Linked DNA regions of Homo sapiens. The protein of the gene in region 3 purifies or fractionates together with the protein of the main gene of each other region. This does not show direct contact. Each region holds a gene or a part of one and is shown on either strand. Other genes may lie near its edges. The genes, in order: USP24, BRD1, MYH6, BDP1, NSF, DCAF1 and TTC4.

Evidence for each region.
Region 1: the proteins of MYH6 (region 3) and USP24 purify together in Homo sapiens (affinity purification with mass spectrometry; one large-scale study listed by BioGRID and IntAct). This does not show direct contact.
Region 2: the proteins of MYH6 (region 3) and BRD1 purify together in Homo sapiens (affinity purification with mass spectrometry; one large-scale study listed by BioGRID and IntAct). This does not show direct contact.
Region 4: the proteins of MYH6 (region 3) and BDP1 purify together in Homo sapiens (affinity purification with mass spectrometry; one large-scale study listed by BioGRID and IntAct). This does not show direct contact.
Region 5: the proteins of MYH6 (region 3) and NSF purify together in Homo sapiens (affinity purification with mass spectrometry, with the first as the bait; one large-scale study listed by BioGRID). This does not show direct contact.
Region 6: the proteins of MYH6 (region 3) and DCAF1 purify together in Homo sapiens (affinity purification with mass spectrometry; one large-scale study listed by BioGRID and IntAct). This does not show direct contact.
Region 7: the proteins of MYH6 (region 3) and TTC4 purify together in Homo sapiens (co-immunoprecipitation; one large-scale study listed by IntAct). This does not show direct contact.

The regions. Positions count from the first base shown.
Region 1 is NC_000001.11:55,093,365-55,096,864, forward strand, and holds part of USP24 (ubiquitin carboxyl-terminal hydrolase 24), read right to left. Parts: intron 3,259-3,500; coding exon 3,134-3,258; intron 2,033-3,133; coding exon 1,891-2,032; intron 724-1,890; coding exon 573-723; intron 1-572. UniProt on the Homo sapiens protein: Ubiquitin-specific protease that regulates cell survival in various contexts through modulating the protein stability of some of its substrates including DDB2, MCL1 or TP53.
Region 2 is NC_000022.11:49,796,874-49,800,373, forward strand, and holds part of BRD1 (bromodomain-containing protein 1), read right to left. Parts: intron 2,247-3,500; coding exon 2,115-2,246; intron 1,814-2,114; coding exon 1,685-1,813; intron 1,245-1,684; coding exon 932-1,244; intron 1-931. UniProt on the Homo sapiens protein: Scaffold subunit of various histone acetyltransferase (HAT) complexes, such as the MOZ/MORF and HBO1 complexes, that acts as a regulator of hematopoiesis.
Region 3 is NC_000014.9:23,387,774-23,391,273, forward strand, and holds part of MYH6 (myosin-6), read right to left. Parts: intron 2,674-3,500; coding exon 2,284-2,673; intron 1,947-2,283; coding exon 1,820-1,946; intron 1,739-1,819; coding exon 1,620-1,738; intron 1,283-1,619; coding exon 1,086-1,282; intron 894-1,085; exon of another isoform or gene 823-893; intron 566-822; coding exon 382-565; intron 151-381; coding exon 1-150. UniProt on the Homo sapiens protein: Muscle contraction.
Region 4 is NC_000005.10:71,458,651-71,462,150, forward strand, and holds part of BDP1 (transcription factor TFIIIB component B'' homolog), read left to right. Parts: coding exon 1-205; intron 206-3,166; coding exon 3,167-3,276; intron 3,277-3,500. UniProt on the Homo sapiens protein: General activator of RNA polymerase III transcription. Requires for transcription from all three types of polymerase III promoters. Requires for transcription of genes with internal promoter elements and with promoter elements upstream of the initiation site.
Region 5 is NC_000017.11:46,691,669-46,695,168, forward strand, and holds part of NSF (vesicle-fusing ATPase), read left to right. Parts: intron 1-1,234; coding exon 1,235-1,400; intron 1,401-2,178; coding exon 2,179-2,253; intron 2,254-2,806; coding exon 2,807-2,994; intron 2,995-3,500.
Region 6 is NC_000003.12:51,416,516-51,420,015, forward strand, and holds part of DCAF1 (DDB1- and CUL4-associated factor 1), read right to left. Parts: coding exon 3,219-3,500; intron 2,362-3,218; coding exon 2,163-2,361; intron 1,684-2,162; coding exon 1,601-1,683; intron 357-1,600; coding exon 272-356; intron 1-271. UniProt on the Homo sapiens protein: Acts both as a substrate recognition component of E3 ubiquitin-protein ligase complexes and as an atypical serine/threonine-protein kinase, playing key roles in various processes such as cell cycle, telomerase regulation and histone modification.
Region 7 is NC_000001.11:54,732,861-54,736,360, reverse strand, and holds part of TTC4 (tetratricopeptide repeat protein 4), read right to left. Parts: intron 2,733-3,500; coding exon 2,651-2,732; intron 1-2,650.

The DNA.
Region 1 (3,500 bases), on a different chromosome or scaffold from region 3:
GACTGAGTAGACAGTTCTGAATTTAGATCCTTGTCCTGTGACACTGGCACATACTTCTTCTTTTCTGAACCTGTTTTTCCATCCAAAAAATGAGAATAAAACCTGATACTGCATAATAATCTTTTACAAATTAAAGATGTGCTTAAAGCACGTAGCACACAGTAGGTGTTCAATAAATAATGGCCAATGATTGTTTTATTAGTCCCACTCAAAGGTTATGAACCTTAACTTGTTTTTCTCTCCAGACAAAATAAGTTTATTTCAGCAACACGATTTCTTTACTGCCCACTCCCCACAACTCTGTTTATTTGTGACATTTCACACTCACAGAGCAGGTCAGTGATTGTGCCTGCCAATCATGAGTGTGTATTCATACTTGTGTTCTTAGCACTCCATGGCTCTAGCTCTATGGCCCCCTCTGTGTCGTGGCATAAAAGGTTCATGAGACAAGTGTGTAAGACGATGTAGCCCCAGTGGTACAACTAATCCAGCAGAAGTACTTCTGGACCTACTAGATACATTTTGATGTCCACGTGGATATTCCCCCTTAGAATTTTTTATATGGTTCTTACCTGGTATATTCGAGCAGGCATTTTCTCCACAAACAGTCCTTTCTTCTCGCCTTTTTTAACCAGCTTGGTAAGAATAGACAGCCGGTCATTGTTCGGCCTATGGGGCCGAGGGGATGACTGAGGTGAAATTTCTGGTGAAGATGGAGCTGACCTAAGAGATAGAATCAGAAAACTCTGTCTAGTATAAAGTGGCTATTTTTTCAGTAGTTACTAAGACTTGCCAAATTCACATAAACGGGTATTAGACTATTTGATTATTATACATGTATCGAAACATAAAACTGTACCACATAAATATATACAATCATAATGTAACAATTAAGAAATTAAAAATGCAATACTTTCTAATTAGTTGGGAGAACTGATTGACATTATAGAAGATAAAATAGTGCAGGGCAAATTTAACACAAATTTTTACTTAAGTGGCATATGAGATTTAACATTTAAGCACAAAATGAATTCTTCCTTCATATTATTGTGAGATATCTTTCCCAGCCATTAAAAAAGCAGTGAAATAAACTTATCTTAGAGCCACACACTCAAAGTCGTGTAAGAACAAAGTATTGAACCAAGTTTTCAAATTTAATAAAACACATATAGTCATATTTCTCACATGAAAAAGTAAACACTTTCCTGACCCAATATATTAAAAGGCAAATTCACTGACAATAGGACCTTTAAAAAACAACAACATTCTGACAGTGTTGGCATAGCATTATGCTTTGGACAAAAAGTGTATTCAACAAATGCTGCTAACATTAAAAAAAAAAAAAAAAAAAAGTCCAGGTATGGTGACTTATGCCTATAATCCCAGCACTTTGGGAGGCCTAGATGGGAGTATTGCTTGAGCCCAGGAGTTCCAGACCAGCCTGGGCAACATTGGGAGACCTTATCTTTACAAAAAACAGACAAACCAAATATCTGGGCCTGGTGCCCCTCGCCTGTGGTCCCAGCTATTCAAGAGGCTGAGGTGGAAGGATCGCTTCAGCCTGGGAGGTCGAGGCTGCAGTGAGCTATGATCATGCCACTGCACTCCAGCCTGGGTGACAGAGTGAGACCACACTGTCTCAAAAAAACAAAAAACAAAACACTTCAATTCTAGAATGAAATAACTTACGTGCATGTTTCTAAATATGTAACAACTTCTTGCCAAGAAAATAACCATGAAGCAATAAGGGATTTATTTTCTTTTTGGAATTCTTTTTAGAATTTCTCTCCAGCTTAGCTAATTATCTTTAAAATCTCAAATAGTATATTGTCACAGACCACATCATCACCATAGAAATCACACAGCAAATTACATGGAAGAGACACTTACAGAGAGAGATCCTCAGCTTCCTGCCGTACAACGCTGACTCGACTTTTCTTTGGTAATACTGGGGAGTTCTGATCAGACACCCTTTGGTAGAAAAGCATATAGGCATTCCAGTATCTTCGGCGCACATCAGTGTATGGGTTTGCTTTATAACAAGACATTAAGAAACACATCTGTAAATAAAAGTTTTTCTTGTCTTGACAATCTAAAACAAAGGGCCCATTATTCCAGCAAGTAGTTAACTACTCCCTAAGTTTGTAAAATGCAAAGTATAAGTAAAATGTGAGTGTCTTTAGAGTACTGCTTAGCATGGAAGTCAGGATACTTCAGTTGTGGGCCTAGCTGGATCTCTCACTTGGAAGTGATATAGGTGGGGACAAGGAATAAGGGAGCAGTATGGTAATGGAGTAAGAGAAAGAAGGTAAGTATCCTAGGGAGGTCTAAATGTAAGCAAATAGCAAGTGACATTTAAAAATATGTTCTGTGGCACAAGATGGGATAACTGGCCTCACTTAACCATTTCTGCCAAGATCGGCCAAATCCAGGCAAATTCTGACAATACTATATCCAACTCTTAAAGGTTACCACCATAAGATGCTTAACTATAATGGCATGGTATCAAAATCTAATACAGTGAATCCAATACAGCTAAAAATTTAGAAATACCACTAGAAGATTTCAAAATCAGGTTTCTGAAATGCTAAGGTCTCCACCAAATAGCTTTTTATCAAATAGCAAGTTCTGATTGGGCTGTACTTCTCCTCATACTCTTTTTTCCTGGGAGTGGGGATTGTAGAGGGAAAGACTGCTTTGCCACACTGCATAATAAATATGGTTTTAAAAACACAGGTGCTAGAAATGTCTTCTCTAATTAGTCACACCTCTACATAAGTGAAAAGGAAATCTGAAAATTTTAATGGATAACTACTTCCAAAACTATTTTTAAGGTTCAATTTCAGTATTCATTACTTTCTCTCTGATGCTCATTTCATCCTTTTAACTTACTCCCAGCTCCCCTACCTATCCCTCAAGGTTGTTGTAAGAAATTATTTAAAAAAATTTTTATAAACAGCTTGAACATTTTCACTTTGGTTATTAAAGAGCTTGCTCATGGTTCTATTGCTAGAACAGTAGTACAATAAAAATAACAAAATCTGTTGTGTTTTTATATAAAGAATACTATTAATTTTTATAGAAAACGATAAATAAAAAAACTAATGGAAAATATCCATTTGTAAATACTTACTTTGATCATAAACTTTTGGTCTATATTCTCCTCCAAAGCATTCATACTCCAGGGTCTCGTCATTTAGGTCAAATTCTTCTATAACTGTGTCATTAAATTTATACCACTTTCCTTTTCCACACCCTCTAGAACCCAGAGATCAGACAAACATTATAAGGTTAAAAAAATCAACCTCCTCATCCTTAGCATTGATCTCAATGTATTGTCTACAAATAAAGCAGGTGTTTACCATTTGAAAATATCTAAGAAATATGTAGCAACAATTATTTCAATTTCTAAAACAACTTTTCAAATTGAAGGGGTAAAACCAGTTGCACGAAGCTTTAAAACTTCAAAATGAAACACAGTCAAGAACAATGCCAAAGTG
Region 2 (3,500 bases), on a different chromosome or scaffold from region 3:
AGAGGAAGAGGGCCAGGCCTCATCCCAGAAGAAGCGACCTAGCACGGGTCAGTGATTCATCAAGAGAAAGGGTAGGCCAAGAAATCAGGGATATGGGACCTTTAGACAAATAAGCCAAACACACCGTGATTTCTGCTCAGTTTGTGGCTCAGAGCTGGAGCTGAGGTGCTGGAGCTCTATGTGCTTTGACAACCCATGTGGGCAGGACACACCCTTCGACAGACAATCCCAGAGGTGCGACTAACAAGCAGGGTGCAGGGGACAGCCCCGGTTTCCGAGGACCAGTCTAGAGAAGGGTGCAGGTGACTACACATGGCTGCAACACGTGCCTGGGCAACCAAGAAGCACAAGCCCAGGCTGGAGTCCAGGTGGGCCGTGGACACACTCCCAGAGCCCTTTCTACAACATGCGCAAACCACGAAGTTAAAGGGCTGGAGGCAAAGCCAGAGATCCTCCGGCTTCACGCCACCCTCAGAAGTTAGCCGAGGCCCACTCTGGATGAAAACCCCCAACTAAGCTGCTTTCTGGGTCTGCATCGTCGAGACCGGCCACCCCATAGGGAGCCACAGCCACACAGTCCTCTTGGTGGGCACCCAAAACGCAGCCAGTCTGAAGTGACAGGTGCTGAGCGTAAAATACACATCAGATGGCAAAGAAGGTGAAAAGCTTATATATCCTCAGTAACGTTTACCGATCCCATGTTGAAATCAACTCTTCCATACACTGAGTAAAATAAGACATATTATTAAAGTAAATTCCACCTGCTTCTTTTCCATTTTTCAGTGAGGCTACTAGAAAATGTAAATGATGTATGCGGTTGCATGCTAGTGGCTCCCGGACCATGCTGATAGGGAGCTGGCAACACAGAGCAGGACAGAGTCTGCTAGAAAGAGCGTCTTCCACCTCCTCCGGACACGGCGCCAGTTCTTACCGTCTTCCCAGGAGAAAGGCCGCCGCGGTGCCGCAGCAGGCCGCTCAGGCAGGTGCATCCCCGAGGCCTCTTCCAAGCCGATGCTGTCCACCTCGCGCCGGGCCTGCCTCAGAACAACACCTCCCTGATCGCGCAGCCTCACCGCGGCTCTATAGAACACGGTGTCCCTGGCATTGTACTTCATGCAGTTATCTATAATGAGATCAAAATCCTCCTCAAACTCATGGAGGTTTTTATACCCTTGAGCTTCTAACCGTTTCCTCATTGTGGCAAAGTCCATGGGATGTTTAATGTGATCCAAATAATCTGGTACCTAATTTTAGGGAGGAAAAAGAATCATTTACAAACTAAAACAGGATATTAGTTGACTCTATATTTATTATTCCATATAACCCACAAGCCCATCCTATCTGAGAGCCACACACAGACACGCAGACGGTACAGACATAAGACCCAAGTACTGCAGGGACCTTCCCGACCCCAGCTCCTTCAGCTAAAGCACGCTGGAGGGTGCCGGGCGGATGCTGCCACAGCCCAGGGTACTGTCTGCACAGGGCCTCTTGCCCACTGCACTTTCAGTATTTTACAATGAAATGTATCACTTTTATAATTTAAAAACAAATACGTTAAATAAAAACGAGAATTAAGAACACAAGGGATGTACTCTAGCCAATCACACGTTTCCCGGTCAAACGGCAGCACAAATCCACAGTCACACATGCGGCAGGACAGACGAGCGCCGCAAACACCCACCTCCTTCAGACTCACGGGCTGCGCAAATATCCTGGCGGGGTCCTTGTCTTGCAGCTGGTCCAGCACTGAGCGCAGCAGCACCGTCAGCGGGGTCAGCCGCAGCTCCATGGCGACCTGCTCCACCTTCACCTGGGGGGGCCCAGCAGAGCCTCAGCTTTAGGGAGCCGCACATGCGTCTCAGCCCCACCACGCGCCCCACAGCCACAAGCAGCCCCCACAGGCTCCTGTGCTTCCGTCCAGGCATAGGACAACGCAGCCTCCACTTAGGGCTCTGCAACCCATGGCAGCCAGGCACCCAGCCTGGGCTGAGCAAGGCACTGCTGTGGGCCAGGACCCACCGGGTGCAGCCCACCCTCTGCAGGAGCTGCCAGCGTCCCACCCACGCCCCGTGGCCAGTGGTGCACTCCACGCGGGACAGGCCCAGCCCCACCTGCTCACGCTTGAGCTTCTCCCGCTTGCGCAGCAGCTCGATCAGCAGGCGAGCGCGCTCCAGGTCGTGCCGCAGCCGCTGCCAGTACTTCAGCTTCTCTTTGGCAGCCTTCATCTCCTCATCATTTTCTCTCTGAGAACAGTGAACACTTCCGTCAGTCAAACCCAGAGGCTCCTTCTGCAAAAGGCCTCAGATACCATGCAGGTGAGACCCCAAGAGGCATCCACGTCAGGGGTCCTGCAGGCCCATCCTGGGGAGGACAACAGACCACCCTCACTAGAGAGCCCCAGGACAGCACCGGGACAGAGGGGACAGAGGAGACAGAGGGGATGGAGGGGACAGAGGGGACCGCCAGGCCAAGGTGAGCAGGGGGCTGGCCCCGGTGCACAGGTTCCACCCTCCAGAGAGGACAGAGGCCTCCGCAAGCTGGCGGCGGGGGGGGCCTTCACAGAACCAGAAAGGCCCACAAAGGCGGGGCCAGGACAGAATGGGGGACCCTTGAGGACCCACCTCCAGGACAGCTGGGAATGGAGGGAGCGGCTGGAAAGAAACCAGGTGCACAGAAAACCACATGCTGGGCCCATCCTGGCTTGGACAGAGCATGACGGGGGCCTGGCACACAGCCGACCTGCTGCCCTGCCCTGCACAGCGCCTCCATCCCGACACACGTTTCCCCACAGCCAGGGTCCCATTTCCATTGATAGCACCTGCTCCCTTCTCAGTGGACAGAAGAGTGCGCCAGACAGCACAGGCCGCCAGCCTCAACCCAGCCAACATCCACACCAGGGTGATCAGAAGAAAATCAGAGCCCTGCAAAGGCCATGACACAGATGGTCGCAGGAGAGTAGGCCACCTGGGTCTGCCCTCAGCCCTGTCCTCACCATGTCCCCCAGGCCTGGCCGCATGAGGCCTGCTCGTCACAGTGCCGGGGCACCCTGACCCTACCTCAAAGGGGAGAGGAAGTCAACGAGGGAGTTGGCCTGAGTGGGCCCCCAACACCTGTCATCCTCCACAGCTGCAGGACACGCGCGCCCTGCCAGCCTCAGGACAGCCGTGGCCATCAGTTTCTGGCACATGCTTCACAGCCCTGAGACCCTCCTCTCCCCCAACGCCTCTGTCCCCGGGTTCCCACCTGCCCACCTCAGGGTACTGTCATAGCTTTTCAAAGGACCGAGGGTGTGAAGGCAAAGACTGCTGGACTACAAGATGCAAGGACCCCGGACTCCAAACTGCTCAGAAAAGGAGGCTCAAGGAGGGAGGCCGAGCCCCGCACCCCCACCCCCAAGGCCAGGCCTCTCCATGGCGAGGCAGAGCGTTGCTGCGCTGATGTCCCCTGAAGTGAGGATCTCTGGGTTTTCCTCAATGCTGCTGAACACCCTCAGGCAG
Region 3 (3,500 bases):
CTCCCGCTTGAAGGTCTCTAGGTGCTCCAGGGACTCCTCGTAGGCGTTCTTGAGCTTGAAGAGCTCTGTGCTGAGGGAGCGAGCCTCCTTCTGTGAGGACTCCAGCTCAGACTGCGACTCCTCATACTTCTGCTTCCACTCGGCCAGGATCTGCCCGGGGACAAGGCTCACTCTTCAGCCCCCCAGCCTTAGCTCCCCAGCCCTCCTGCTTCCCAGTGCCCCAGCCCCCAGCCTCAGCCGCATGTCCAAGATCTGTCCCTGGTCCCGAGCCTGGGCTTAGCCCTCCTCCTCCACCTCCAAGGAGGTTGCCTTTGGCCTCTCACTGAACCCCTCATGCCCCCTTGCCCTGCATGCTGGCTGCGGCCCCCGCCCATGGTCCACCTTGTCAAAGTTTCTCTGCTTCTTGTCCAGGGCTGCAGCAGCAGCATTGGAGCGCTCTACGTCCACCATCAAGTCCTCTATCTCATTCTGTAGCCGGTGCTTGGTCTTCTCCAGTGAGGAGCACTTGGCATTAACAGCCTCCACGGCCTCCTCGGCATCCTGCAGCCGCTGGGCCAGCTTCTTTCTGCCCAGGTGAGGGTGGAGGGTGTGTGTGTGACTCTACTGGGCAACACTGGAGCCTTGGGTGGACCTCCTTCCACCCCCTCCCTATATCTCCTTGAGACACCGTAAGTCCAGCCTAGCAGGAGCTGAGCCTGCTCATGCCTGGAACAGAGTCCGCCAGCACGGGCTGCCCAGGCGTCCTCCCTACCTGCAGTGGCATCTGGGTGTCAGTGCCCCCTGCCCTCACCCCCCACACAGGCTGATCGACGGTAGCTCCTCTGACCAACAAGCTTTTTGCTCGTCTTATACGTGAGCATCAGGTATAACCCGGGCCAAAAGCTCGCCCGTCACAGGAAGTGGGTCAGGGCCAGCCAGAGTTCACAGAGCAAAGAGTTCAGGCTTTCTTCCAAGCACTTCTGTTGCCCTCCGAGTTCCTCCTGTCTCTTCCACTTCCGTCTCATGACCACTTTGCCTGTCCCCACCCCAGGTCCTCTCGCCCCTTCCTCTCTGAGAGTCAGGTTAAGGGGGTATCTGGAGCTCACTTGGCCTCTTCGAGCTCCTCAGTCCGCTGAATGGCGTCCGTCTCATACTTGGTCCTCCACTGGGCCACCTCCGAGTTGGCCTTGGACAGGACGCGCTGCAGCTCGGCCTTGGCCTCTGTCTCCTCCTCGTACTGCTCCCGCAGCAGGTCGCAGTCATGCCGGGCCGACTGCAGTGCATGGGCCAGGGCGTTCTTCGCCTGGGGAGGGGGGGGGGCACCAGGAGGTGGGAGGGACTCCCTGTGCCCCATTCTCTAGATTCTCTTCTTATGTAGTACTTCAACCAAGCCCAGCCTTATTCACCATGTGGGCTGATGTGGCACCTCACTGTTTGAGGAGTTTCCCAGTCTGCTCACCCCATCCCCTTACGAATAAGAAAAGAGGCATTAAATGACGCTTAGCTGCAGGGCAGAACCTAGACTGGAGGGTCTTTCCCTTGCAGAGGACTCTTTCCAGCTCCAGGCTCCATTTCTGGCACTGAGATGAATTGCCCCAGGGCTGCCATCAAGCCTGCCCACCCTCCCCACTGGGCCTCACCTTGCCCTCCTCCTCCAGCTGCCTTTTGAGGTCCTCCATTTGCTGGGTATAAGAGAGCTTCCCCCGGGTCAGCTGCGAGATTAGCGCCTCCTTTTCCTCTAGCTGCCGGGCCAACTCTCCTGGAGGTGAAATGAGGGGCTTGTGGGCCATTTCACAAGTCATGTCCTGCCCTAGGCAGGGGGTTGGTTAGGGGCACCCACCATTCTCGGTCTGCAGCTTGGCTCGCTGGGTGGTGAAATCATTGAGGGAGCGTTGGGCCTCTTCTAGCTTCACGCGGTACTCATTGGCCTGGTCCTCCAGCGTCCGAGACACTTTCTCCAGGTTTGCCTTCAGGAAGCAAGACAGGAAGGGTGAGTGTGGGAGGGGCTGAGTCGACCAGAGGAAGGAAGAGAGGGTCAGAGATGGGGAATGCCAGAGGGCAGGAGGGGGACACAGAAGGTGTGGGAGGGCGCAGTCTGAAGAGAGACTTGAATTAAAGAAAGGAGGAACATGAAGAGATAGAGAGGGTGAGGAGAGCCAGAGAGGGGCAGGGGAGACAGGAAGAGAGACCAAAGGGTGATGAAGAGAATGAGAATGACAAGGGAGATGGCAGACAGAGAGAGAAGGCATGGGGGAGGCTCCGCTGTGCAGGGGAGAGGGCGAGGGGAGGCCGAGCAGAGCCTGCCTTGGCCTTGATGATCTGCTCCATGTTGGAGGTGACGTCATCCAGCTCCAGCTTGAACTCGCTCTTCTCCTTCTCCAGCTTCTGCTTCACCCGCTGCAGGTTGTCGATCTGCTCGCCCAGCTCGGCCACGCTGTCGGCGTGCTTCTTGCGCAGGGCCGCGGCAGTGGCCTCGTGCTGCAGCGTGGCCTCCTCCAGGTCCCGCCGCATCTTCTGGAACTCGGCCTCGCGCTTCTTGTTCATCTCGATCTGCACGGACGTGGCCCCGCCGGCCTCTTCCAGCCGCTCGCTGATCTCCTCCAGCTCCCGAGACAGGTCTGAGCGCAGCTTCTCCACCTTAGCCCTGGCGGTGCGCTCGGCCTCCAGCTCCTCCTCCAGCTCCTCGATGCGTGCCTGGGTCAGACACAAAGGGCTCAGACCCACCGCCTGGACCCCTCCACTGGAATCCCCCCGGCTCTGAAAAGCTACCAGGAACTTAGGTTCCTCTCAAGCAGTGGTTCTCAACTAGGGGCAATTTTGTGCCCCAGGGAACAGTTGGCAATGTCTGATTGTCATGTCTTGGTGGGGCTTGCTACTGGCATCTAGAGGGTAGGGGCCAGGGATGCTACTAAACATCCTATAATGCATAGGCCATCAATAGGAATTTGGCTGAAGCTCCCAAGGGCATCTCAGACCCAGTGTGAGCATCTGCAGCCCCAAATCCTGAGAACCTGTGGTTGAAGGGGGATCCTGGTATCCTGTGAGATCAAGAAGTTCAGAGTCCCCAGATTCACTAGGCTCTGTTGCGCTATTCATAAGACGGGAAAATGAGTGCTTGTATTTTACAAATATTTGTGACAACATGCCTCGAAACAATCAGATACCTTTGCAATTCTCCAAGTTAACCACAAAGTCCAATCAACCATATTCCTTGCTCTCCCAGGCTTGCTGTGTTTATGCCCAGGGCTGGGTTTCAACATGATTGCTCCCTTCCAGGCCAGGAAAGTGCTAGCAGGCTACTCTCCTCTTCACCTCATCTCCTTATCCTCTTTAAGTGCCCTTACCTCATTTTTTGGGCCTTAGCCTTGGTCTTGACTAAATTGGGAGAATATCGTATCTACCATTTTGATCTGTTGTCTGGCTAGCCAGGAGCAAAACGGGGGTTCAGTGGAAATCCCTTCACCTCGGGTTATGGACAGCTTTAATGGACTGTTCATGGATGGGTCCTACAAGCAGCAGAG
Region 4 (3,500 bases), on a different chromosome or scaffold from region 3:
AAAGCGAATATCAAGTACTTCTAGCCTGGTTAAGTCTAGTGTCAGTGTTCCTTCAGAATCTCATCCCTTATCTACAATTAATCAAGAGGCTCCACAGCCAACTGCCACTTCAACAAAAGAGAAACAGCCATGCTCAGACAGATACCGAATATACAAAGCCCAGAAACTGAGGGAAATGTTAAAAGAAGAATTGAGAAAAGAGAAGGTAAGGGAGGAGAATCAGGATTTTGATGTTGCCTTCTATTTATGTTAGTAAGGAATCATTGGGAAGAAAAGCATTTGTAGCATTTTGATGGGGGAACAAAACCACATAACATCCCTTAGTCAATAGAACATCCCTTCTTGTTAATGGATTGATTGATACACCGTGGACTTAAATTACATTTTTCACTGATAGTAATTTTTACATTATTTATTTATGTTTTCACTGTTTTTGGTGAAGACCACAAATAAGTTTCATACGCATACACATAGATGCACATACACAAACATATTTATAAAATAAACCTTCAGTCTGATTTTTCACATAAAGATGTCCAAGTGATAAGTGATATATTTATTTGAATTAAGACAAGTATAGGCCGGGCGTGGTGGCTCATGCCTGTAATCCCAGCACTTTGGGAGGACTAGGGGGGCAGATCACTTGAGGTCAGGAGTTCAAGACCAGCCTGGCCAACATGGCAAAACCCTGTCTCTACTAAAAATACAAAAATTAGCTGGGCCTGGTGACGTGCATCTGTAATCCCAACTACTGGGGAGGCTGAGGCATGAGAATTGCTTGAACCTGGGAGGTGGAAGTTGCAGTGAGCCGAGATTGTGCCTCTGCATTCCAGCCTGGGTGATAGAGTGAAACTGTCTCCAAAAAAAAGACGAATATAGTTGAGCAGAATGAATTGGTAATGTTTTCTAAATTGACTATGGAAAATTACAAGTGGGAAAAATTTGTGTTATGCATATATTAGAGTCCATGTTCTTTTTAATCTTGAGGATTGATTTCTTTTCTAGAAGGGCAGGTAACAGCAGTAGAGCATGCTGGCCCTGGAGTTAAATACTTAGGGATTGAATCTCAGCTTCATTTCTTTACTAGCTTTGTGACCTTGGGTAATTTAATTAATCTATTTCCTCATCTGTAAAATAGACCAATAATAGTTCAGGTTGAGCATCCCTGAAATTGAAAATGCTCCAAAGTCTAAAATGTTTTGAGTGCCAAAGTGATGCTCCAGGGAAATGCTCATTGGAGCATATTGGATTTCAAATTTTCAGGTTAGAGATGCTCAGCCAGCATGTATTCTGCAAGTATTCAAAAATGTGAAAAAATCCAAAATGTGAATCATTTCTGGTCTCAAGTATTTCAGATAAGAGATGCTCAACCTCTATCTAGCTCATTAGAGGGTTGTGAAGATTAAATGAGTCAATACATGTAAAACACACTTAAACTGGTGTCTTGGGCCTTGTGCAGTGGCTCACGCCTGTAATCCCAGCACTTTGGGAGGCCGAGGTGGGCGGATCACCTGAGGTCAGGAGTTCGAGACCAGCCTGGCCAACATGGTGAAACCCCGTCTCTACTAAAAATACAAACATTATCTGGTTGTGGTGGTGCACGCCTGTAATCCCAGCTACTCAGGAGGCTGAGACAGGAGAATCGCTTGAACCTGGGAGGCAGAGGTTGCGGTGAGCCAAAATCGTGCCATTGCACTCCAGCATGAGTGACAGAGCGAGACTCCGTCTCAAAAAAAACCAACCAAACAAAAAAACTAGTGTCATGAAAATAGTAAGTGTCCAACCAGTGTCAGCTTCTGTTATGAATTATAAAATGCCTCTTAGTTTTTTTTAAATTAAGGGAAGGCATTTTGCTTGGTGCTTTATATCTGTTATCTTATGTAATTATATCAACTATGTGAAGTAGATATCACTGTTTCACACAGGAGAAAACAAGCTTTCAATTTATGTCTTCTAAAATGTAAGCCTCACAACAATTGCTTGAACCTGGAAGGCGGAGGTTGCAGTGAGCTGAAATTGTGCTACTGCATTCCAGCCTGGGCGACAGATCAAAGCCTCTAAAAATGTTTTATGGGTTGGGAATTGGGGGTGGGGGGATTAAAAAAAAGTTCTGTATTTTACAGAAACTGCTTATTTGCTTATTTAATTTATTTTGGGGAATTAAAGATTAAACATTTGCTTCAAGAATTTTACAAAATACACAGAATTTCAAGTCACTACAGGGTAAAAAAAAAGCTGTGTAAGCATAAATTCTCAGTGAGCTATTAAGATGTTTAGTTAGAAGGCATCAGTAAGCATTTTATACATTGAGCTTTATTAGTTTTATTCTTTGGTTATTTATTTAGTTTTGAGACAAGGTCTCACTGTCACCCAGGATGGAGTGCGCTAGTATAATTGCAGTTCACTGCAGCCTCAACCTCCCAGGCTCAAGTGATCCTCCCACCTCAGCCTCCCAAGTAGCTGTGGCTATAGGCATATGCCACCACATCCAGCTAATTTTTTTGTATTTTTTTGTAGAGATAGGGTCTCATTTATGTTGCCCAGGCTGGTAACTCCTGAGCTCAAGCGATCCTCCTGCCTCAGCCTCCCAAAGTGCTGGGATTAGAGAAATAAGCCACTGTGCCTGGCCACATTGAGCTTTTATCTAGTCCTAGTCACTTTAATTGTTAAAATCTAAATACTGCCTGGGTGTGTGGTTCACTCCAGTGCTTTAGGAGTGTGAGGCAGGAGGATCACTTGAGCCCAGGAATTTGAGAGCAGCCTTGGCAACGTAGGGAGACTCCATCTCTACCAAAAAAAAAAAAACCCCACAAAATTAGCCAGGTGTTAGGCAAGCATCTGTAGTCCCAGCTACTTGGGAGGCTGAGGTGGGAGGACTGCTTGAGCTCAGGAGTTCAAGGCTGCAGTGAGCTATGATTGCGCCACTGCACTTTAGCCTGGATGACAGAGCAAAACCCCATCTCAAAAGTAGATAAATAAAAACTAAAAGCTATTGAGGGTAATGTGCTACAACTTTTTAATATTCCATCTACAAAATTACATAATTGGGGTGAGAATAATATTAAAGCACTTACAGTGAACGCAACAGTGGACTGTATATTTGCATATAGTACATCTGAAATTCTTTAATATTTATAAAAGTGGATCTGTGTGTTTATGTATACAGAAACAATGGAAAAACAAATATGCTATAAATGAAAGTCAGAGGCCACCAGATCGTTCAAAAATGACTATGAGAGACTTCATATATTATCTACCAGATAATAATCCAATGACGTAAGTAAAATTTATTTCTGCTTTACTATCTCTTTTTTTTTTTTTTTTTTTTTGGAGGTGGAGTCTCGCTCTGTCACCCGGGCTGGAGTGCAGTGGTGCAATCTTGGCTCACTGCAACCTCTGCCTCCCAGGTTCAAGCGATTCTCCTGCCTCAGATTCGCGGGTAGCTGGGATTACAGATGCTCGCCACCACACCCGGCTAATTTTTGTATTTTTAGTAGAGA
Region 5 (3,500 bases), on a different chromosome or scaffold from region 3:
AGTCTCATTATGCTCATTTAATTTTTATTATCCGTATGTTGTCATATTTAGGTTATGTTCATTTTTTACCAGTTTTGTTAATCCCTAGTATTTTTTGTTTTTGAGACGGAGTCTCACTCTGTCGCCCAGGCTGGAGTGCAGTGGTGCAGTCTCGGCTCACTGCAACCTCTGCCTCCTGGGTTCAGGTGATTTTCCTGCCTCAGCCTCCAGAGTAGCTGGGATTACAGGCACCTGCCACCACACCCAGCTAATTTTTGTATTTTTAGTAGAGATAGGGTTTCACCATGTTGGCCAGGCTGGTCTCGAACTCCTGACCTAAGTTGATCCATCCTCCTCTGCCTCCCAAAGTGCTGGGATTACAGGCAGGAGCCACCGCACCCGGCCGTGTTTTTTGTTTATAAAAGAAAAAATTTCCAGAGTGCACTTTACTCCCTGATAGGAGACTAAATTACTTAAATATAAATTTTAGAAGGTACGTGTTAAATTAACCTAATGAATTAGTAGCATTCAGAAGTGTTTGTATCTGTTAAAGATTCAAAATATACAAACTAATTTCTTTTAATGGTGATTCTATTTCTAGTAAACTAAGGCAGAAATCATTATGCAGAAGAAACAGCACCCTGTTAACCATGTTCTTTTTATAAACCGTCTCTGTTCTCACTTTATTGTTAGGAAGGCGTAATCTGTTTTCATGTAATATAAGTACATGTGAGTCATGTTGAGTTTCTTCACTCATTTGTCCAATTCCCAGTCAACCTGTAGGTGGAGTTAACCTTTAGTTACATAATATAACGAAACAAACATTAAACCTACTGCTTCTGGGACAGTCTTCTCACCAAAACTCAGGGAAAATGGGAGGGTGTTGCCACTGACTGACTTAATGAAAGTATCTGACAAATGTAAGGTCTTTCAAATAGTGAGATAAGAAATGTATATAAATTATTTGATCGACTACTTACTTTCTATCTATACACACACACTATCAGTATATAATGTGTATTTTCATTTTATAGCTATTAAATATGAGGTTCTAGAATGAGTTTTCAGTTTGCAGAATTCTGAGAATCTAGTTCCAACACCTTTGAGAGGACAACAACCACAATTGCACTTGCCATATTTATTAGTCAAAATGAAGTGAAGTCAATCTGTTGAAAGCTTTGTTTTGTTTTTCTGATTAGTTTGTTTAATAAGACATTCAAATTATGATCTTTAATATAATTTCTTCCCCTAATAGCTTGGTGCTAACAGTGGTTTGCACATCATCATCTTTGATGAAATTGATGCCATCTGCAAGCAGAGAGGGAGCATGGCTGGTAGCACGGGAGTTCATGACACTGTTGTCAACCAGTTGCTGTCCAAAATTGATGGCGTGGAGCAGCTAAACAACATCCTAGTCATTGGTATGTTTACTTTTTAAAAAAGTACTATTCATTCAAAAACGTTAGCCATAAGTTCTGAATTAAGATGTGTGTAGGTTGTGATTAAACTGTTTTGCCAGTGTTTCCAAATTAGAATCCAGTGATATTGAAGAATCTATTGTAATGCCTAGGCTTAATAGGAAAAATAAAAGATGGATTTCAGTCACTTGTAGGTTTAAGCTTATAGCTCACCCACAGGTGAAAAAGATGTAGGTTGAAGCTTATAGCTCACCCAAAAATGAAAAATACACATGAAACAATGGAATGCAGTGGTTTTCAAACTGGGTCTTGCAGGCCTTCGGGGGTCCTCAGAGGTGCTTTCAGGGTCAGTGAGGGCCAGGGAGTGCGTTTCAGATCCTACATCACTATTATAACTTCCTCTTTTAGCTGTTTTATGTACTGAGGTGCTTCTGAAGATGACTTCTGGGGGAAAAAAAAAAAAAACACCCTGCTGTTTTATGAAGTCTGAAAACCACTGGCCTGTAAAAAAGAGAAGGAACTTTGGAGTCAGAGAGATCGTGTCACATTGCCCCTCTGTCACTTTGACAGATTATTTACCCTTTGAATCTTAAATTTTCTTTTTAAATACTGGAAGTTTTCATAACATTTATATTCCATTGGCTTATACAGTAGTGAAATAGTAAAGCAAAGTCTCCTTAGCTTGTTAGGGAAATTACTATTCTTACATATACTAAAAGGACATTTGATTTTATTTTTGAACTCTGATCATTTGTTGTTTTGTTTTAACATCTGTGTTCAGGAATGACCAATAGACCAGATCTGATAGATGAGGCTCTTCTTAGACCTGGAAGACTGGAAGTTAAAATGGAGATAGGTAAGGAGATCTGTCACTGATTGGGTGTGTGGTGGGGGGAGTGGAGGCATTTAGAGTTCATTAACAGGAACAATGTCATATGGTGTAGTATTTTTTAGAAAAGGTTTATATCATGAGAAGTAGATGTTTACATGCTTGAGTACCTATAAGGAAAACATTAGGATCATAATAATCTCCTCTAGGCTGGGCGCAGTGGCTCACACCTGTAATCCCAGCACTTTGGGAGGCTGAGGCAGGTGGATCACTTGAGGCCAGTTGTTCGAGACCAGCCTGGCCAAGATGGTGAAACCCCTTCTCTACTAAAAATACAAAAAACTTAGCCGAGTGTGGTGGTGTGCACCTGTAATTCCAGCTACTCGGAAGGCTGAGATAGGAGAATCGCCTGAATCCAGGAGGCAGAGGTTGCAGTGAGCTGAGATCGTACCACTGCACTCCAGCCTGGGAAACAGAGCGAGACTCTGTCTCAAAATAATAGTAATAATAATAATGATAATCTCCTCTGATGGTGCTTTCGAGACTAGGAAAATGCCTATTTTATTTTTAATTTCATCAGGCTTGCCAGATGAGAAAGGCCGACTACAGATTCTTCACATCCACACAGCAAGAATGAGAGGGCATCAGTTACTCTCTGCTGATGTAGACATTAAAGAACTGGCCGTGGAGACCAAGAATTTCAGTGGTGCTGAATTGGAGGGTCTGGTGCGAGCAGCCCAGTCCACTGCTATGAATAGACACATAAAGGTCAGGAAAATCAGCTAAACAGATTATAAACATTATGCCAGTATTCTTTCTCTTTCCTTTCAAGCATATCAAGGGGTAGGGAAATGCTGACTTTTGGTGGAGAAGAGATGGTAAAAGGAATAAGAATTAATTGTCAACTGCTAAATCTTCAGAGTAGCAGGAAGGAAGATAATGTTTGCATCTGCCCTGTAGTAACCACTGACTCATCTACCTTAGGTCATCACCATCTGACACAGACACGTAAAGTGAAAATTTTGAAGAAGTGTTTTTAAATCTTTGTATTGTATTAAAAGTTGTAATATGGCCAGGCATGGTGGCTCATGCCTGTAATCCCAGCACTTTGGGAGGCTGAGGCGGGCGGATCACAAGGTCAGGAGATCGAGACCATCCTGGCTAACACGGTGAAACCCCGTCTCCACTAAAAATACAAAAAATTAGCCGGGCATGGTGGCGGGCACCTGTAGTCCCGGCTACTCGGGAGGCTGAGGCAAGAGAATGGTGTGAAC
Region 6 (3,500 bases), on a different chromosome or scaffold from region 3:
AGGCAGGGGTTTCATTTCTAATCTAAAACTTACTAAGAATTCAAAAATATCTGTGGTGCTAATGACATCTTTCTCAATGTCACATTTAGCCCTTATACATTTTTCCCATACAGCTCAGAACTATATTATCATACTTTTAGATTCTAACTAGAAGGAATATCACTGATTTCTAGTTGCCCAAAGGACTTAGGTCCTCACATTCTATCAAGAAGATTTCAGTATGAACAAATGGGTATGATCAGCTTGAAAACAGTGGTTCTTAAGTACTTACGTGGGCAATGTCTCCTTTTGTGCCGATGACCCGATCCTGGGAGTGCTTACTGAACTCAACATAGTGATCTTCTGTGAAGGAATGCCTATGGACAAACAACAGGAGCACTGAAGTGACAGATCTTCAGGACATATTCCTGCAACCAACTGAAACACAGGTGACCCCCAGCCTCTTGCACAATCACACTCACCTAAAGATCCTGGACTCCCAAAGAGGAAACAATCATACACTTAGATTACAAAGAAAATTCCTTCTATCACCTTAACCAAGCAGATACAAAATAATGAATGGGAATTCCTTAGAGAAATGACAAACAGGGCACATGTGCCTTTGAAACACGCAGCAAAGGGGCCAGGCATGGTAGCTCACTCCTACAATCCCAGCACTTTGAGAGGCTGAGGCAGGTGGATTGTCTAAGCTCAGGAGTTCGAGACCACCCTGGGCAACATGTCGAAACCCTATCTCTATCAAAAATGCAAAAAATTAGCCAGGCGTGGTGGCATATGCCTGTGGTCCCAGCTACTCAGCAGGCTGAGATGAGAGGATCACTTGAGCCTGGGAGGTGGAGGTTGCAGTAGGTCATGTTTGTGCCACCGCACTCCAACCTAAGTGACAGAATGAGACCCCGTCTAAAGAAGGAAAGAAAAGAAAAGGCCAGGTGCGGTGGCTCAGGCCTGTAATCCCAGCACTTTGGGAGGCCAAGGCCAGCGGATCACAAGGTCAGGAGATCAACACCATCCTGGCTAACACAGTGAAACGCTGTCTCTACTAAAAATATAAAATATTAGCCAGGTGTGGTGGCGGGCGCCTCTAGTCCCAGCTGCTCGGGAGGCTAAGGCAGGAGAACGGTGTGAACCCGGGAGGCGGAGCTTGCAGTAGGCTGAGATCGCGCCACTGCACTCCAGCCTGGGCGACAGAACGAGACTCTGTCTCACAAAAAATAAAAAAAAGAAAAAAAAAAGGAAAGGAAAGGAAAGGAGAGGAGAAGAGAGGAGAGAGAAAAGGAGGGGAGGTGAGGGGGGAGGGGAGGGGAGAGGAGAGGAGAGGAGACACAGCAAAGACTGCAATGTCCTATGTGAACATGGGAAAATACATAGATTCTGGGTCGGGGTCTGCTGCATAATGAGAATGTATATACCTCATAAAAGTATCTAGGAATTAAGAAAGATAAAGTCTTATTAAACATGAGTCTTAGATGAGGAAGAGAGAAGTTAACAATAACCGACAGCATCCTCTTTCCCCAAAAGGCTTCCAGTCTAAGAACCAAATGAAGGGGGGTATAAACTAGGTAAATAAAGCACAGACTAGGTTCCAAAAGCAGATACATACTTCATATCAAATACTGACTTCATTCCCCAAAGTGCAGACAAAGGCTGGCTCCAAGTAGCAGATGTCAGCAGCAAGGACCCATCCTAAAAGAAAAAGGCGCAAGGTGGGTAACCACGTATTTACATACATGCAGATGTCACTACCTGCCATTAGCATTTTTAAAGATTTGCATAAAAATGTTGTTGAATTAAAGAGACAATTTTATAATCCCCAGAAACCAAGAAATGGTCAGAAGCCACTAGGATTTGAATACATACACCTATAGTGTCCTATAAAATAACCAAACTTAAGAGAATATTAAATCCTACTGAACTAGCCACAAAAATAGAATAGATAAAAGGGAGGGGGGAAAATGAGAAGATGTCAAAGATGGTTCCTTTCTTCCTACTAACTTTGCCATATTCCTCAGTCTCCATCTGAAATATGAATTAACCTCAACTAGACTTTCCAGTTGAGGACTCATTTAAAAGAGAGAGCTCAATAAAGGGTAAGCCTCCTTTACTCTAGTTCACCAATTCATCTTGGAAGAATGACTGAGAGCATCCTAGGAAGGAACCCTTACCCTGGAAGGTTCAAGATGTGTGATGGCTGAGTTGTGACAGTTATAGCTGGCCTCCTCCTGTCCACTAAACACATTATAGAGCTTCAGCTGCCCTGTGCAGGTGCCAAGCATCAGGAACCGCTCCCGTGCTGAGAATGCACAGCAGGTGAAGCCACTCTCATCTTCATTGGCTTCCCGGAACACTGAAATAGGACGGAATCTAAGCAAAAAAAAGAGAGAATCACAGGCAAAGAATGTGCAGGGACTCAGAAAAAGCAAACTGCTAGGATAGAAGAAAAAGCACAGAACATTAATGTTTCAAATGGCTTCTTCCAAAATCACAGTGACCTTCAGTGCTTTTTATTTTAAATAAGAAAAAGATTTCCACTTACAAATTTAAATAACAAAAATTCCCATGTTTAGGCCAGACACAGTGGCTCATGCCTATAATCCTAGCACTTTGGGAGGCCGAAGGGGGGGTATCAATTGAGGTCAGGAATTCAAGACCAGCCTGGCCAACATGGTAAAACCCCATCTCTACTAAAAATGCAAAAATTAGCTAGATATGGTGGTGCCTGCCTGTAATCCCAGCTACTCAGGAGGCTGAGGCAGGAGAATCACTCGAACCTAGGAGGCAGAGGTTGCAGTGAGCCAAGATAGCACCACTGTACTCCAGCCTGGGCGATAGAGAGACTCCGTCTCCAAAAAAAAAAAAAATTCCCATGTTTAAAACCTGTGATCCCGTAACCTTTATGTAAGATTTGTCAAGAATCAGAACAGGAAGCAACTTGCACCAGCACAAGTTTGGGAGCCTCCTTATGGACAGTAGTAATGAGGGGGTGTGGGTTCTAGAAAACATACTAGTTGAGATGAGAACACAAACGATTATATCAATATACTGCCAACAATCACACAAGGAACCCATGGTTGACAAAAGGTGGTACAATTACATTGTTCAAGTATTACACAAAGTAACAATCAGTGGTATTTCAGGACAACTATGCTGATACTGCCCAGTTTGATTTAAATAAAAGAATCATTCCAATTCCCAGGGAGTAAGAAGGGGCCTCTTCTTACCTGCTAAAGATAAGGTGCCTATCAAAGCATCCGCCATCCACCCCTCCATACTTTGGAAATGATGCCCTGCGGTTTAGCCTTGACGTAAAGTTTATTGGCGCTTGCCGCCTCTGTTTTGGCTCAGGACATTGGTGAGGAGTAAAGAGGGAGAAAGGTGGGCAGGTGGCAACTGGATTCTTGCAGCGAGCATGTTGTTCTCTAAGATACTCTGTGATTATACTGTCCAGCGTAGGTGGGGAAGGAAGATGTCTGTCCAGCTGTTTTTTTATGGCTGGGCTTTGG
Region 7 (3,500 bases), on a different chromosome or scaffold from region 3:
GAAGAAAGTCATTGTTACAAATATAGAAAGGGAGAAAAAATCCTGTGGATGTTGAATTAAGAGTTGGAGATACCAATGAGACTTCATGGTCTCTCTCTCTCTCTCTCCTCTCTCCTCTCTTCTCTCTCCTCTCCTCTTCTCTCTCTCTCTCTCTCTCTCTCTCTCTCTCTCTCTCTCTCTCTCTCCTTTCTTTCTTTCTCTCTCTTTCTCCCCCAAGCTGTGGCACTGAGAAGGCATTGAGGCAGTAAGCTTGCCTCTCTACCCCCATTGTATTAATCGATACACTTATACACTTATTGCACAGAGATCTCGGCTTCTAAATACCATTCTTCACTAGAAAGAACCAGGGCTTCTTGGGAAAAAATAGCTAATTCCAGAGCTGGGGCAAGGAAAGCGCAATCTGAACCTAGAACATCCTATGTAAGAAAGCAACCACTTAAAAAATAGACACAAGTCAAAAGGACACAGAAACAAATTTGAAGAGATTCCCACTGGCCAAATCTGGGATATTCTGAGCATAAAAGAAACAATCATAGTAACAGATTAAAACTCATTAAATGAAACAGGAAACTATAAATCCACCAATATAAATAAATATGTTGAATATCTGACGAGCAATGGGATATTTACACCATTTCAAAGCATCTCCCTATAAAACACTTATTAATCATAAAGAAAAAGTAACTGTACAGTGGAGAAGGCTGGCAGACCCCACCTCAATCAGGTGATCAGAGTGAACATCATGAGTAATGGGACAAATGGAGATTATGTACCATCTGATAGGTGCAATGAGAATACAGCATCACTTCTGTAATATTCCAGCCAAATATGCATAATCCAGGCCGGGCATGGTGGCTCACACCTGTAATCCTAGCACTCTGGGAGGCCAAATCGGGCAGATCATTTGAGGTCAGGAGTTTGAGACCAGCCTGGCCAACACGGCAAAACCCCATCTCTATTAAAAATACAAAAAATTAGCTGGGCGTGGTATCTGAGTAGCTGTAATCCCAGCTACTCAGGAGGCTGAGGCAGGAGAATCGCTTGGACCTTGGAGGCAGAGGCTGCAGTGAGCCGAGATCACACCATTGCACTTCAGCCTGGGCAACAAGAGCAAAACTCCATCTCAAAACAAACAAACAAGTATGTATAATCCAAATCTAGTCAGAAGGAAACATGAGACAAACCCATACTGACAGACATTCTACAAAATAAGTGGTCTGTAATCTTCAAAGTGTCCTGCAGTTGAGTCACAGGATCACAAAAATATGAATAAAAATTTTTTAAGTAAAAAAAAAAAGTGGAGGAAAGACTGAGGAGCTCTTCCATACTGAAGGAGACTAAGGGGACATGATCACTAAATACAGTATGTGATTCTGAACAAAACCCTTTTGCTATAAAGAATTTGTGAAACCTGAATGGAGTCTGAGGGTTAGATGGTAACAGTGAATTAATGTAAATTTCCTGCTTTGATAGCTATATGGGTATTATAAAGAAAAATGTCCTTTTGTGTAGGAAATACACAGTAAAGTATTCAGGGGTAATGGGACATCAGCTGGCATCCTACTCTCAAATGTTAGAAAAAGGTAATTCTTTATACTGGATATTGTGATTTTTTATTTAAAAAATCCCAACAATGGAATGTTATTCAGCCTTAAAAAGGAAAGAAATTCTGGCTGGGCACGGTAGCTCACACCTGTAATCCCAGCACTTCTGGAGGCCAAGGAGGGCGGATCACTTGAGGCCAGGAGTTCAAGACCAGCCTGGCCAACATAGCAAAACCCCATCTCTACTAAAAATACAAACAAAATTAGCCAGGCTTGGTGGCACATGCCTGTAATCCCAGCTACCTGGGAACCGGAGGCATGAAAATCACTTGAACCAAGAGGCAAGGTTGCAACGATCTGAGATTGCACCACAGCACTCCAGCCTAGGTGACAGAGCGAGATTCTGTCTCAAAAAATAAAAATAAATAAAAAGGAAAACAATTCTGGTTGGGCATGGTGGCTCACACCTATAATCCCAGCACTTTGAAAGGCGGAGGTGAGTGGATCACTTGAGGTCAGGAGTTCGAGACCAGCCTGGCCAACATGGTGAAACCCCATCTCTACTAAAAATACAAAACTTAGCTGGGTGTGGTGGCACGCGTCTATAATCCCAGCTACTCAGGAGGCTGAGGCAGGAGAATCGCTTGAACCTGGGAGGCAGAGGTTGCAGTGAGCCAAGATCGCACCACTGCACTCCAGCCTGGGTGAAACAGCGAGACTCCGTCTCAAAAATTTAAAAAAAAAAGGAAATTCTGACACATGATACAATATGTAATGAACCTTGAAGACATTATGCTAAGTGAAATAAGCCAGACATAAAAGGACAAATACTGTATGATTCCACTTATATGAAGTACTTAGAGTTTCAATTTGGGAAGATGAAAAAGTTTTGGAGATGGCTGGTGGTGATAGTTGCACAACAATGTGAATGTACTTAATGCCACTGACCTATATACCTAAAAATGGTTAAAATGGTAAATATTATGTCATGTATATTTTACTATAATTTTCAAAAAAATAAAGCAGACTGCTTCCCCCGCCGCAAAAAAAAAAAAAAAAAAAAAAAAAATTAATTCCATAGAGGAACGAAATAAAACTTCTCTTACCTCCAAATTATCAGGGCAATATTTTTGCTCTAGGTCCCAAGAGGGTGTTTCACCAAACATCACCATTAGATGATCAATAAACCTAAGGATAAAACATGTACTTTCTGGGTATCAATAACTCATGATCTATTTTCCCACATCGGTCCCCAGACACTAATTCAAAGTTATCTAGAATGTATAAAACATGAAATGCAGGCTTAACCCATTTGACAGCAGTACCCCAAATGTGTATATGTATCACTTGTCCTATTATGACATAATTTTATTTTATTTTATTTTATTTTTTTTTTTTGAGACAGGGTCTCGCTCTGTCACCCTGGCTAGAGTACAGTGGCATGATAACAGCTCACTGTAGCCTCGACTTCCGGGCTTAAGCAATTCCTCTACCTTAGCCTCCTGCATAGCTGAGACTACAGGCACATGCCACCATGCCTGGCTAATTTTTTTCTTTTTTTTGTAGAGATGGGGGTCTCCCTATATTGCCCAGGCTGGTCTCAAACTCCTGGGCTCAAATTATCCTCCTGCCTCAGCCTCCCAAAGTTATTGGGATTACAGGTGTGAGCCCTGCACCTGACTGACAGGATTTTCTTTTTTTCTTTTCTTTTCTTTTTTTTTTTGAGACAAAGTCTTGCTCTGTCACCAAGGCTGGAGTGTGGAGTACAGTGGAACAATCTCTGCTCACTGCAACCTTCACCTTCTGGGTTCAAGTGATTCTCGTGCCCCAGGCTCCCAGACAGCTGGGACTACAGGCATGCACCACCATGCCCGGCTAATTTTTTATATTTTTATTAGGCACGGGATTTTGCCATGTTTGCCAGGCTGGTCTTGAACTCCTGGCCTCTAGTGATCC